Linked DNA regions of Homo sapiens: region 2 is linked to region 1. Evidence: fine-mapped expression QTL. A gene starts in region 1. The other region holds a variant in brackets. All regions are shown on one strand. Distances are between the middles of the regions.

Evidence for each region.
Region 2: its variant is fine-mapped to the expression of CFAP43 in thyroid (GTEx, PIP 0.93).

The regions. Positions count from the first base shown.
Region 1 is chr10:104,229,173-104,234,550 of GRCh38, forward strand. CFAP43 (cilia and flagella associated protein 43) reads right to left here and starts at 3,192. Exons shown (of 38, transcript NM_025145.7): 1 at 3,010-3,192; 2 at 1,418-1,671. The coding sequence starts at 3,074. RefSeq lists an enhancer at 3,019-3,313.
Region 2 is chr10:104,187,356-104,192,733 of GRCh38, forward strand. It overlaps CFAP43 (cilia and flagella associated protein 43), which reads right to left. Exons shown (of 38, transcript NM_025145.7): 12 at 4,844-4,947; 13 at 915-1,055; 14 at 1-137. Among named protein-coding and RNA genes, the nearest start is that of MIR609, 29 kb to the right of the region's middle. The variant G/T (reference allele first, on the strand shown) is at 2,576.

The sequences.
Region 1 (5,378 bases):
CAAAGTATTATAAATTATAGTGAAGTTCCCTGACTTCATCCAAACACTTATTTGACCCTTAAGACTACAGAGCTAAGTCCAGCCTCAAGCATGAGCTTTCTGCCCATGGGGTGTTAAATGAAGGAATCATTAGCTGGTGGCTCCAGCAGACGTGCAGCAGCTCAGTGTGGGTCAGCTGTATCTAAGAAAGAGTCATTAGGCCGGGCACAGTGGCTCACGCCTGTAATCCCAGCACTTTGGGAGGCGGAGGTGGGTGGATCACTTGAGGCCAGGAGTTCGAGACCAGCCTGGCCAACATGGTAAAACCCCATCCTCTGCCAAAAACATAAAAAAAAAAAAAAAAAAGCCGAGCATGGTGGCGCACACCTGTAATCCCAGCTACCTGGGAGGCCAAGGCAGGAGAATCACTTGAACCCAGGAGGTGGAGGCTGCAGTGAGCCAAGATCATGCCACTGCACTCCAGCCTGGGTGATAGAGCCAGACTCTGTTAAAATAAAATAAATAAAATAAACACTAATAATTCAAATGGTAGGCAACATTGAGCACTTGGCATACATACACATACAGCATATTATATATTTTCATCTATCATCATCACCGCAGCCTTCACATTAGACACCATCTTTATCCCTATTTCATGAATGAGGAAATTGAGGCTCAGAGACTTGACTTTAGAAGCTATACAAACATCAATTCACCTGGATTTTCAACAAATATTAGGAAAGAAAAAAAAGTCATTGCTCTGAAAAAGGCAATAGTCTTCTAGCCCAGTGCTTCTCAAAGTTTAATGTGCATATGAATCACCTGGGAATTTTGTTAAAATGCAGATTCTGATTGAGTAGCTCTGATGTGGGAGCCAAGTTTCTGCATTTATAACAAGCTTCCCAGGTAGCACCAATGTTGCTGGTAAACAGACCACACTTTGAACAGCAAGGCTCTAGCTAACATAATTTAAATCCTCAGTGATCAGCTTGATTCCTTCTTTAAAAATGTATATTAAAAAAAAAAATGGGGCCAGGCGTGGTGGCTCATGCCTGTAATCTCAGCACTTTGGGAGGGTGAGGCAGGCGGATCACTAGGTCAGGAGTTGGAGAACAGCCTGACCAACATGGTGAAACCCCATCTCTACTAAAAATACAAAAATTAGCTGGGCGTGGTGGTGCGCACCTGTAATCCCAGCTACTCAGGAGGCTGAGGCAGGAGAATCACTTGAACCTGGGAGGCAGAGATTGCAGTGAGCCAAGATCGCACCACTGCACTCCAGCCTAGGCAACAGGGCAAAACTCCATCTCAAAACAAACACAAAAAACAAACAAAAAAAACCTTTCAAAAAATAAATCTTCACTTATAATAGATTTAGTCAACTCTTTAAACAAAATCCTTCAATTATGGGCAGAGGAAGGGTTCTCTAGAATACCTTTCAATTTGGTCCTTCTGGTCAATCCTGGAAAGCTGTATACGTAGATGAGAGGTTTTAGCTTCCGGTCAGAAAAAGCCACAACTTCACAGGGGATGTTAGTTGCCATGACGCCCACAATTCCATTACTACACTGCAGTACAGTCTTTTTCTTGGTTTCAATATTAATAAATATTACATAATTCCCACAAGGGTAGCAAATGGTGTTGTCGTTGACAAAATGAACATTCTGCTTAGGGAATCCTTGCACCCATCTTTGGGAAAAGATATGTCAACATCAATATAATACATTTCAAATACTTTTTTTTTTTTAACAAAGCAAAGGGTCATCAAAATCTTTGAAACATTTCTATTTTCATGTCCTTTCTGCCCCCAATTTCTAAGATAAAAGAACACACATGCTGGCTGTGAGATCCATTTGAGTCAATGAATTATAGAAATTTAAATGTAGACCTAAAGTTCCGTAGGTCTCCCAGGCCTTCTTCAGATAACTTTTTCAGCAAAGGAAACTCTCTGACCAAACCTGAGAAAGTCTCAGAAGGACTTCTGGGGTCTTCTATACTTGGAAGACAAAAAGTGAAAATAACAGAGAAAAGAGCTTGATCTCAACACAGTGGCATCCTGGGCCATTCTTTTATAATTAGTTTGATTTTTTTAAATAAACTTTAAAAAACAACTTTGCATAGGACAGCCTGCTTTGTGGTTGTTAGCAGAGTAGGAAAATTGCTTATTTACACAGATGAAGAGTATGTGGCCATATTTTAGATTTAAAAATACAGATAAACGTAGAAAATAAAAGGAATGAAGTCGACGTGAATGAAAGGCTAGCACACAAAAAGAACATACTCTCAAGTAAGGAGTGCGTGCTAGGTGTATGCTAGAAAGGAGAGGAGATGAAGGAGATTCTATTTTTATTTAAATATTAAAGGTATGCTTGAAGATGGTGGAAAAGGCAAGTGAAGGACACTGGTTTGGTGAGAAACCTCGAGACATTAGAGTGTCCAGGACTAGCAGGGGATGCTGTATAGAGTGGAGGTGGGGGCTGGGAGGAACACTCTAGAATGTAGGGGAAAAAATGCCACCTATATCTGCGCAGTGCTTGATGCTTTTCAAAGGCTACTATAAATGCAAATAAATCCAAAGCTAGTGGATAGGAGTTAGAAGGAAAGGATTCAGGGACCTAACTTTGGGGAAAATCACCAAAGGTAGCAAGGACGGGATCCGGGCTGTCGCCAGGTGGAGGGGGAGGGGGATGTGATCAGAAGACCCGGATCACTAGCGGGAATCCTGAGCTAGAAGGAAGAGATGAAGGGTGCAGGGGACGTTGCTGGGTAAGAGACGGAGGGTCAGGGTCGCAGAATAAGGAGTGGGAAAGACAACTGGGGACGGGGTCAAGGAACAAGGGGATGGGGAGCGGACAGGGGAGGTCACACGGGGAGGGAGGCTGAGGGAAGGCACTGGGGGCAGAGGGGAAGAGGTCGAAGCTGCGGGGAAAGCCGCCCTAAGGAACCGGAGGGAGAGGAGGGAGGAGGGGACTTGGGGCAGGAGGTTCCGCGAGACCCAGATCGGTCGCGGGGCCGTGAACACCGCACCTCACGGACAAGGACGCGCCGCCGGCGGAGTGGGGGCCTTCGTCGCGCTCCCGGCCTTGCGCCATGGGCAGTGTTTTCCTCAGGCGGGAGCAGGCAGCGCACGCAGCACCCCAGGGCGGGTCGGTTACCTTTCCGCCGCCGCGGGGCTGCGGGCCGCGACGCCGCTGCTGTGTACACCCGTATCCCGGAGACCGTAAGCCCCGCGCCCATTGGCTCTGCGCTTTGGCCCGCTCCCTTCTGAGCCGAGCAGATTGGTGGAAGGTCTGCCGCTCTCGGCCAATGGGTGAGCGGCAAGCCAAGCGAGGGGCGGGCCCCTTGCTGTTCAAAGTGTGGTCTGTTTACCAGCAACATTGGTGCTACCTGGGAAGCTTGTTATAAATGCAGAAACTTGGCTCCCACACCAGATCTACTCAATCAGAATCTGCATTTTAACAAATTTCCCCAGGTCCGGGCCAATAATTGCAAGTAAGACTCATGCCTACAATCTCCGCGCTTTCGAAGGTCAGAGCGGGAGGATCGCTTGAGGCTAGGAGTTGAAGACCAGCCTGGAAGACATAGCGAAACCTGCCGCGCCCGTGCCGCATCTCTACAAAAAAATTTAAAAAGCAGCCGGGCATGGTGGTGCACGCCTGTAGTCCCAGCTACTTGGGAGACTGAAGTGGGAGGATCGCTTGAGCCCAGGAGTTCAAGGCTGCGGTGAGCTGGGATGACGCCACAGCACTCCAGCCTGGGCGACAGAGCGAGACCTGTCTCTAAATAAATAATTATTTTTAAAAATCAATAAATTTCTAAACAGACTTTCATTTAGAGTGCTGACTGTGCCAAACATTGTTGCAACGTCTTCACATCTCCCATCAGCCCCATTTTACAGATAAGTAACGTGAGGAAAAGAGAAGCACATAATTTGTCCATGGCTACAAAGTTGAGTGGGACTTTATTTATTTATATTATTTATTTATTTATTTTTGAGATAGGGTCTCACTCCGTTGCCCAGGCTGGAGGGCAGTGGCTTGATCTTGGCTCACTGCAACCTCCATCTCCTGGGTTCAAGCGATTCTCCTGCCTCAGCCTCCCAAGTAGCTGAGATTACAGGCACGTGCTACCATGCCCAGCTAATTTTTTGTATTTTTAGTAGAGACGGGTTTTCACCATGATGACCAGGCTGGTTTCAAATTCTTGACCTCAAGTGATTCGCCCGCCTTGGCCTCCCAGAGTGCTGCGATTACAGGCGTGAGCCACCTTGCCCAGCCCTGAGTGGGACTTAAACGCAGGTCTAGCTAATTTAGAGCTCCAAGCCCTTAAGTACCATATAACACTTTGAAATGTACCCTCTTGCTTCCTCAGGGAAGCAGACAGCTCTGGAAGTAACCTGATTGAATGGTCGGCAGCTTGTCATTCCTTCTTCTCTCCCATACCTTCCCTTAGACTCCCTCCCTTACCCTTCTTCCTTTCCCTTCAGTCGTCTTCCCTTCTCTACCCTTCCCTTCCTTTCTTTAGGTCTTTCCTTCCTGTCTTGCTTTCTTCTCTCCATTTCTTTCACAAATATTTACAGAGCATCCCGCATGCATTCATGCATGTGCTAGTCACTTGGAAAAAATAGAAAAACAAATAAAGTTTCTTCCTTCTTGGAACTTAGAGACTGGTGGGATCCAGGGAGTTGGGCTAGATATCCACATGGTCTCAGATGGTCTGTGTAAGTTGTGAAAGGATTTATGAAAGTGATTTTATGCAAGAAATGTTGTACAATTCACGGATTGTTAGGCCTCCTAAATGCTTCATACAATGCCCTATGACTCTTACTGTACAACTTGCCTGCTTAAGTAAGGGTGAGCCCTGTGGACATGTGGAGTTAGCTATGCCCTCTAGCTATGCTAGAGAGTCAGCTGTTATCTGCACTTCTGCCTGTTGTGTCCTAGGCTAGGCTCCACACCTAGTACACAATTAAAATCTCTTACTTACCAAGGTTTTCACCAAAAATAAAAGTTGCAAAAAGTTAACATTATAACATGTAATTAAAACTACTAAAGAAACAGTTTTACATGCAAGGTGTGTAAAGAAAGTAAAATGTGTTTTTGGTGAAAGATTATAAGAAGTAATGGGAATGTGGATTTTTCTCTGCCTACATTTAAGTGTTAAAGGATTGCTTTAAGTAAAAAAAAAAACTAAAGGTTTAAATAAGTTGTGGAAGGTTTATAAAAATTAATTGTAAGAGATTCTGTATGTGAACATACTGGCTAAAGTTACAGGGGTATTATTCAGTTTTTCGATAAATTAAACATTGGAATAAAAGCACAACAGGTTTTTCTTAGAGTTGATCTGCTCTTTCACACACACACACACACACACACAATTGTAAAGGGTTATACGAG
Region 2 (5,378 bases), 42 kb before region 1:
TTGACTACAGAAGCCATATATTTGGTTACTTTGAAAGCCCAAGACTGCAGAGGACAGAGCGTGCTCCAACTCATACAGGTACTTATGAATGATTTCATCTTTCAGCCTTCCTCTTTCATCAGCAAAGGTTGTGGAAACTATTAGATTTGGAAAAAGAAGAGAAATCACTTGTACCATAAATTAATTTTGTTTTTTTAAAATTATGAACAATTATGAAAAGCAAAATAAAATTTAAATGCTCAACTAATATTGCGGAAGCTAGTAGGTGATAAAAATGATTTAAAAACACTTGTCTCCCTAGAAATACTTGAGTATTAAATGACTGATAGTGGGTAAAATATTTCTGTAATGCCTTGATTAATTTTTAATCAATTAACTTAGAGACATATTAAAAGAAACCCATGGTAGTATAGAGATTCTTATAAAAACATAAAAGTACTTGGAGGTTGTCGGCTCTCTTCTGCTCTATAATTATATATTTGCAAAACTGCTAACCTGATATATTTGTCATTAAAACAAGGAAAGAGTATCTATTTTCTCATACCTTTTTATCCAGAAAACTGTCTTTATAATTTTGTCAGTGAAGGGAACTACACTGTAATCTATCTGAATTTAACCTTGTCTATTCAAAGCTACAAAACAAGAGACATCACAAAAATAACAAATCAATTTGATGTGTCCGTTGATCCTATCTCTTTTCCTATGGTAATAAAGCAGACTCATGAGTCAGGAAGCCCAGAGGAAAAGTCCACACTTCAAACTGTTTAGCATGTTGGTTTTACTTTGTAAAGATAGACAAAAGGTGGCCATTTTACCTCTTCACATGCCAAGATAAAAACAAAACAAACCCAAAAAACAATAACAACAATGTATCTGGGCTCAGGAGCAGAACTGGCTGCTTATGTTTTCCTTACCTTGTGGCAGTAATGTAGGCAGTGTGAACATCTCCAACCTGCTTCTCCCTGCTTCTGGAAGCGAGGAAAGCACCATCACTTCCACTATGTCTGTTTCTAAAAGAGACACTGTGGATATCTGTAAAATGTCTTTGGCCACCTCTGAAAGCAAACAGAGATCAACACCACAAGTGGTCATTGATAAGTTTAAATGATCTTTTACCTTTCCAATTAAGATATCATCCATGGACTTGCCTTCACTATATCTTTAGAATCAAATTATTTGCTGGACATTTAAAGTGACCTTTAAACATAAGTTACAGGGACATTTTTGATGAATGGATGAGGGATTCTCCTGATTAGATGTCTAGACTGGCAGATTTAAACCAGCCCAGTCTGTCTGGGTTTCCTTCCCAGCCAGGGTGGCCCCAGAGTGCACCATCTCCACCCCCTATCCCTCCAAACCAGCATCTGCATGAGCTGGTCCCCACAAGTCCACTCCAGCCAGGTTACCTAATCCTAAGATTGGGTAAACTTAGGCATCGGCCTTCTTTGCATCTGTGGTCAAGGACTGTGGGTGTGGTGGAAACGTGACTTTATGAGCTTGCTCCACTAGAAAGCCAGCTGATCTAACCTCTACAAGGTGTGCCAGGCCTGGAGCCCACCTTGGATTTGTTCCAGATTCACTCTCCCATTCTTCATGGGACTGTGCTGCAGGTGCCCACTTTCTCAGGCCCTTCCCCAGGCGGTCAGCAGATGACCTTCCCTCTTCCTTAACAAGGAAGACCAAGGACATCTACATAAACTCAATCTCAACTTTCTTATCCTGAGACTCACACTTTCCCCTTGTCTGTTTCCATTTTCTCCATTCATTTCCTGACATTGATGTAGGAACAAAATGTAACCCCTCCCTGTCTGTGATTTTTGAGCCCATTCCTCCAATCTCCTATTAGACCATACATTATCAATCACCTCTTTTTAGCTTCTTGTGTCCCTTATGGTTCCTTTTATTCAGCCCTCATGACTCCCCTGTCTTCAAATAAGAACCTTCCTCCAACTCTGCTGTCCCACAACAGTTAACATCTGACTCTCTTTTCTCCACTGCAAACTTCCTAAAATAGTTTTGGCACTTTCTGACTTAATTTTCTTACCTCTATTCCCTCCCTAACCTTCTTCATTCCAAAGAAGTAGCTCTCTCAGGGATCACCTGCTGACTGGCAAATATATGAGAGCCTATCTCAGCCCTCTCCCTACCCACACTTCTGTGTCAGCCTGTACTTTCATCTGCCTTCCTTCTTTAGGCTGTTTCTGGAGAGAATGACTCCCAGTTCTCTTATTACTCTGGCCCAGCCTCAGTTTTCTTCACTGCCTCATCTTCCTCTGTCCACAGCTTCAATATAAAATGTGGACCAGGGTTCTATTCCCAGCTTCTTCCATCCCACCCTCTGGCCAAACAGATACATTAAAAATGGGGCAGGGAACAGTGGCTCATGTCTGTAATCCCAATACTTTGGGAGGCTGAGGTGGGAGGATTGCTTGACTCCAGGAGATCAAGACCAGCCTGAGCAACATAGAGAGACATTTTCTCTACTAAAAAACAAAACAAAACAAAACAAACAAACAAACAAACAAAAAAAGGCCAGGCGTGGTGGCTCACGCCTGTAATCCCAGCACTTTGGGAG[G/T]CCAAGGCGGGCGGATCATGAGGTCAGGAGATCGAGACCATCCTGGCTAACATGGTGAAACCCCGTTTCTACTAACAAATACAAAAAATTAGCCTGGCGCGGTGGCGGGCGCCTGTAGGCCCAGCTACTCAGGAGGCAGAGCTTGCAGTGAGCCAAGATCACGCCACTGCACTCCAGCCTGGGCGACAGAGCGAGACTCCATCTCAAAAAAAAAAAAAAAAAAAAAAAAGGAAACAAAAACAAAACAGAGAACAAGCCAGGCTTTGGGGCATAAACCTGTAGTCCCAGCTACTCAGGAGGCTGAAGCAGCAGTATTGCCTGAGCCTAGGAATTCAAGGCTATAGTGAGCTATGATTGCACCACTGCACTCCAGCCTGGGTGACAGAGCAAGACTCTGGAAAATAAAATAAAATAAATGAAATGGAATATTTAGGCAGGATATACATCCACTCTGAGGTCAGCCACAGGCTGTACCACACTCAGTGCCATCTAATTTGCATATTTAGTTACCTCTTTTGCCTTATTAAGCATCCAGGTTTACTTCCACTCTGTTGAGCCATCTCATCAGCTACCATGATTTCAAGATCAGAATTCTATCATTAAGCCTTGAACTACATATCCCGATTTCCAAACTTAAGCTAAATATGCCCAAATGAAGAGTTTATTGGCTTTAAACCTATGGAACTCATCAGCTCAACCTATTCCTCAACCTCTAGAACTTTCAACTAATGGCATTGCAAACTTCCACCATTCAGGCTAGAAATTTTGGAGTCATCACTTATCCCTTCCTTTCGCATCAAATACCAAGTCCTACCAATTCCATCACTCGTGGTTGTGCCCTCTTTTCTCTTTCTGTAACTGCAGCATGAGTTTGTGCATTGTGGATAAGAGCACACGCCCTGAAACTGGACTTCCTTAACTGGGCTCTGCCACTAACTAGATGCATGGCCTTGAACAAGTACTTAGCCTCGCTTCGCCTCAATTGCCTCATGTGGAGAGATAATAGTAGTATCAATTTCATGAAAGTTGTCTAAGAATTCAATGGGTGGAGACATGCTGAGGGCTTAGAATACTGGCTACCACATAGTCAGGCATTCCTCAATAAGTGTTGGCTGTTGCTATGATTATGACTATGATCATCTCTTGCCTTGGCTAGTATTATAGCTTCCAATCTCATCTTTTTAATTTCATTCTTTTGCCTTTCTACTCCATCCTTCACACTGGTATCAGAGTCAGTCTCTAAAAACGAAGTCAAATCATGCCAGCTCCATCTTGAAACCACTGATGATGGCTCATTAACCACAGAACAATTCCAGACTCTTTGGAATGATATTCAAGGTCCTTCCTCTTTCAGACTTCATTGCCATAGTCATCTTCTAGTAAACTCTTCCATTTACCTGTTATACCAGACTTTTTTACCATTCCAAGTACCTTTGTTTGGGTTATTATTTTGAGCAGGAATACTAATATGTCCTATCCCACACCTATGAAAATCCTTCAAACCCACTACTTTAAGCCCTTGGAAAACTCCTCCAATCCTCCGCACCCCCTGACCAGTGCCCACCTTCACCTCCACTCCTCTCCTCACACTTGGCAGAATGAATTGCTGCTGTATCTGAGCCTACACAGTATCTGAGCCTACACACCATTCTGCATTTTCCTCCTCTACTAAATTGTCTCCTTAATATTTTCATCCCCCTACAAGGCCTAGGTTTGGCATTTTGCACCTTGTAGGCACTCACTAATTTTTATAAGTCAATGATAAACAAATTTAAAAACTTAGGAGTGGGACTTGGCAAAGTGTGAGGAGCAAAAAAAAAATTTTTTTTAAGGAGAATTTTAAAAAAAATTGTGTGTGTGGGGGGGGGGAAACACATATACAGTTGGCATGTAAAGCCAGAGAGAAAATAAAGAGAAAATTCTTCATTAGAGATAAAATATTAAAAAATATTTTCAAGAGAAATCAACCCAACTTCTCTGTATGTTAATATTAGAAATGTTCAGCCATTTCATTAATGTATTTAATAATTGATTCAAGAAAATTTATTTAGCACCAACTATGTACCAAGCAGATAACTCTAATATTCCAAATACATCAAAATATAATGTGAGAATTCTCCTAAGTAACTTTAGTTATTTAAAGGTTTCTCTTTCAGAAAATATGCCACAAATAATTGTTTCAATATTCAATATGAAAAGTCCATTTTCATAACCTTAAATTCTTTGAAATAATCAATATTTTAAATTAATCAGCATTCTATGTTGTACCTGTGAATCCAATAATCTGAAATGAGCTTGAGGAGTTGGCATTGATAATAAAGACTTTTCCTTCTGCTGTTCCAACTAACAGAAATATTCCTTGCTGATCATAACTAGAAAAGAAGAAATCTGATGATCAAATCCCAATTGTTTCACCAGCTAGATGGTGAACAAGTTTATTGAATGGCCACAGAGATATGTTCAAAGCCAGTCATTTTTACGGTTTGCAATTTTTAATATTCTCTGACCTTATTAAAGTGGAGTGATTACATGTGGATATAATCATTGTACTTTAGGCCAATGATATTTCCAAATTGCAACTTTAATAAATACAGTCAAGAAGATTCAGTAAAGATGGGCAGTTGGTTCATCATAAGTGAATGAAACATGTCTGTCGGTAGAGCTTTCTTGATGTTTCAAGCGCAAATAAGCAATTCTCAAATTAGTGGTGGGTGTGACATTTCATTACCCTGTGTCTGGTACCTGGCAGTGGGAGGAAGAATGTAGTGAAACATGTCTACAACTTTATCAAATTAGAAAAAGT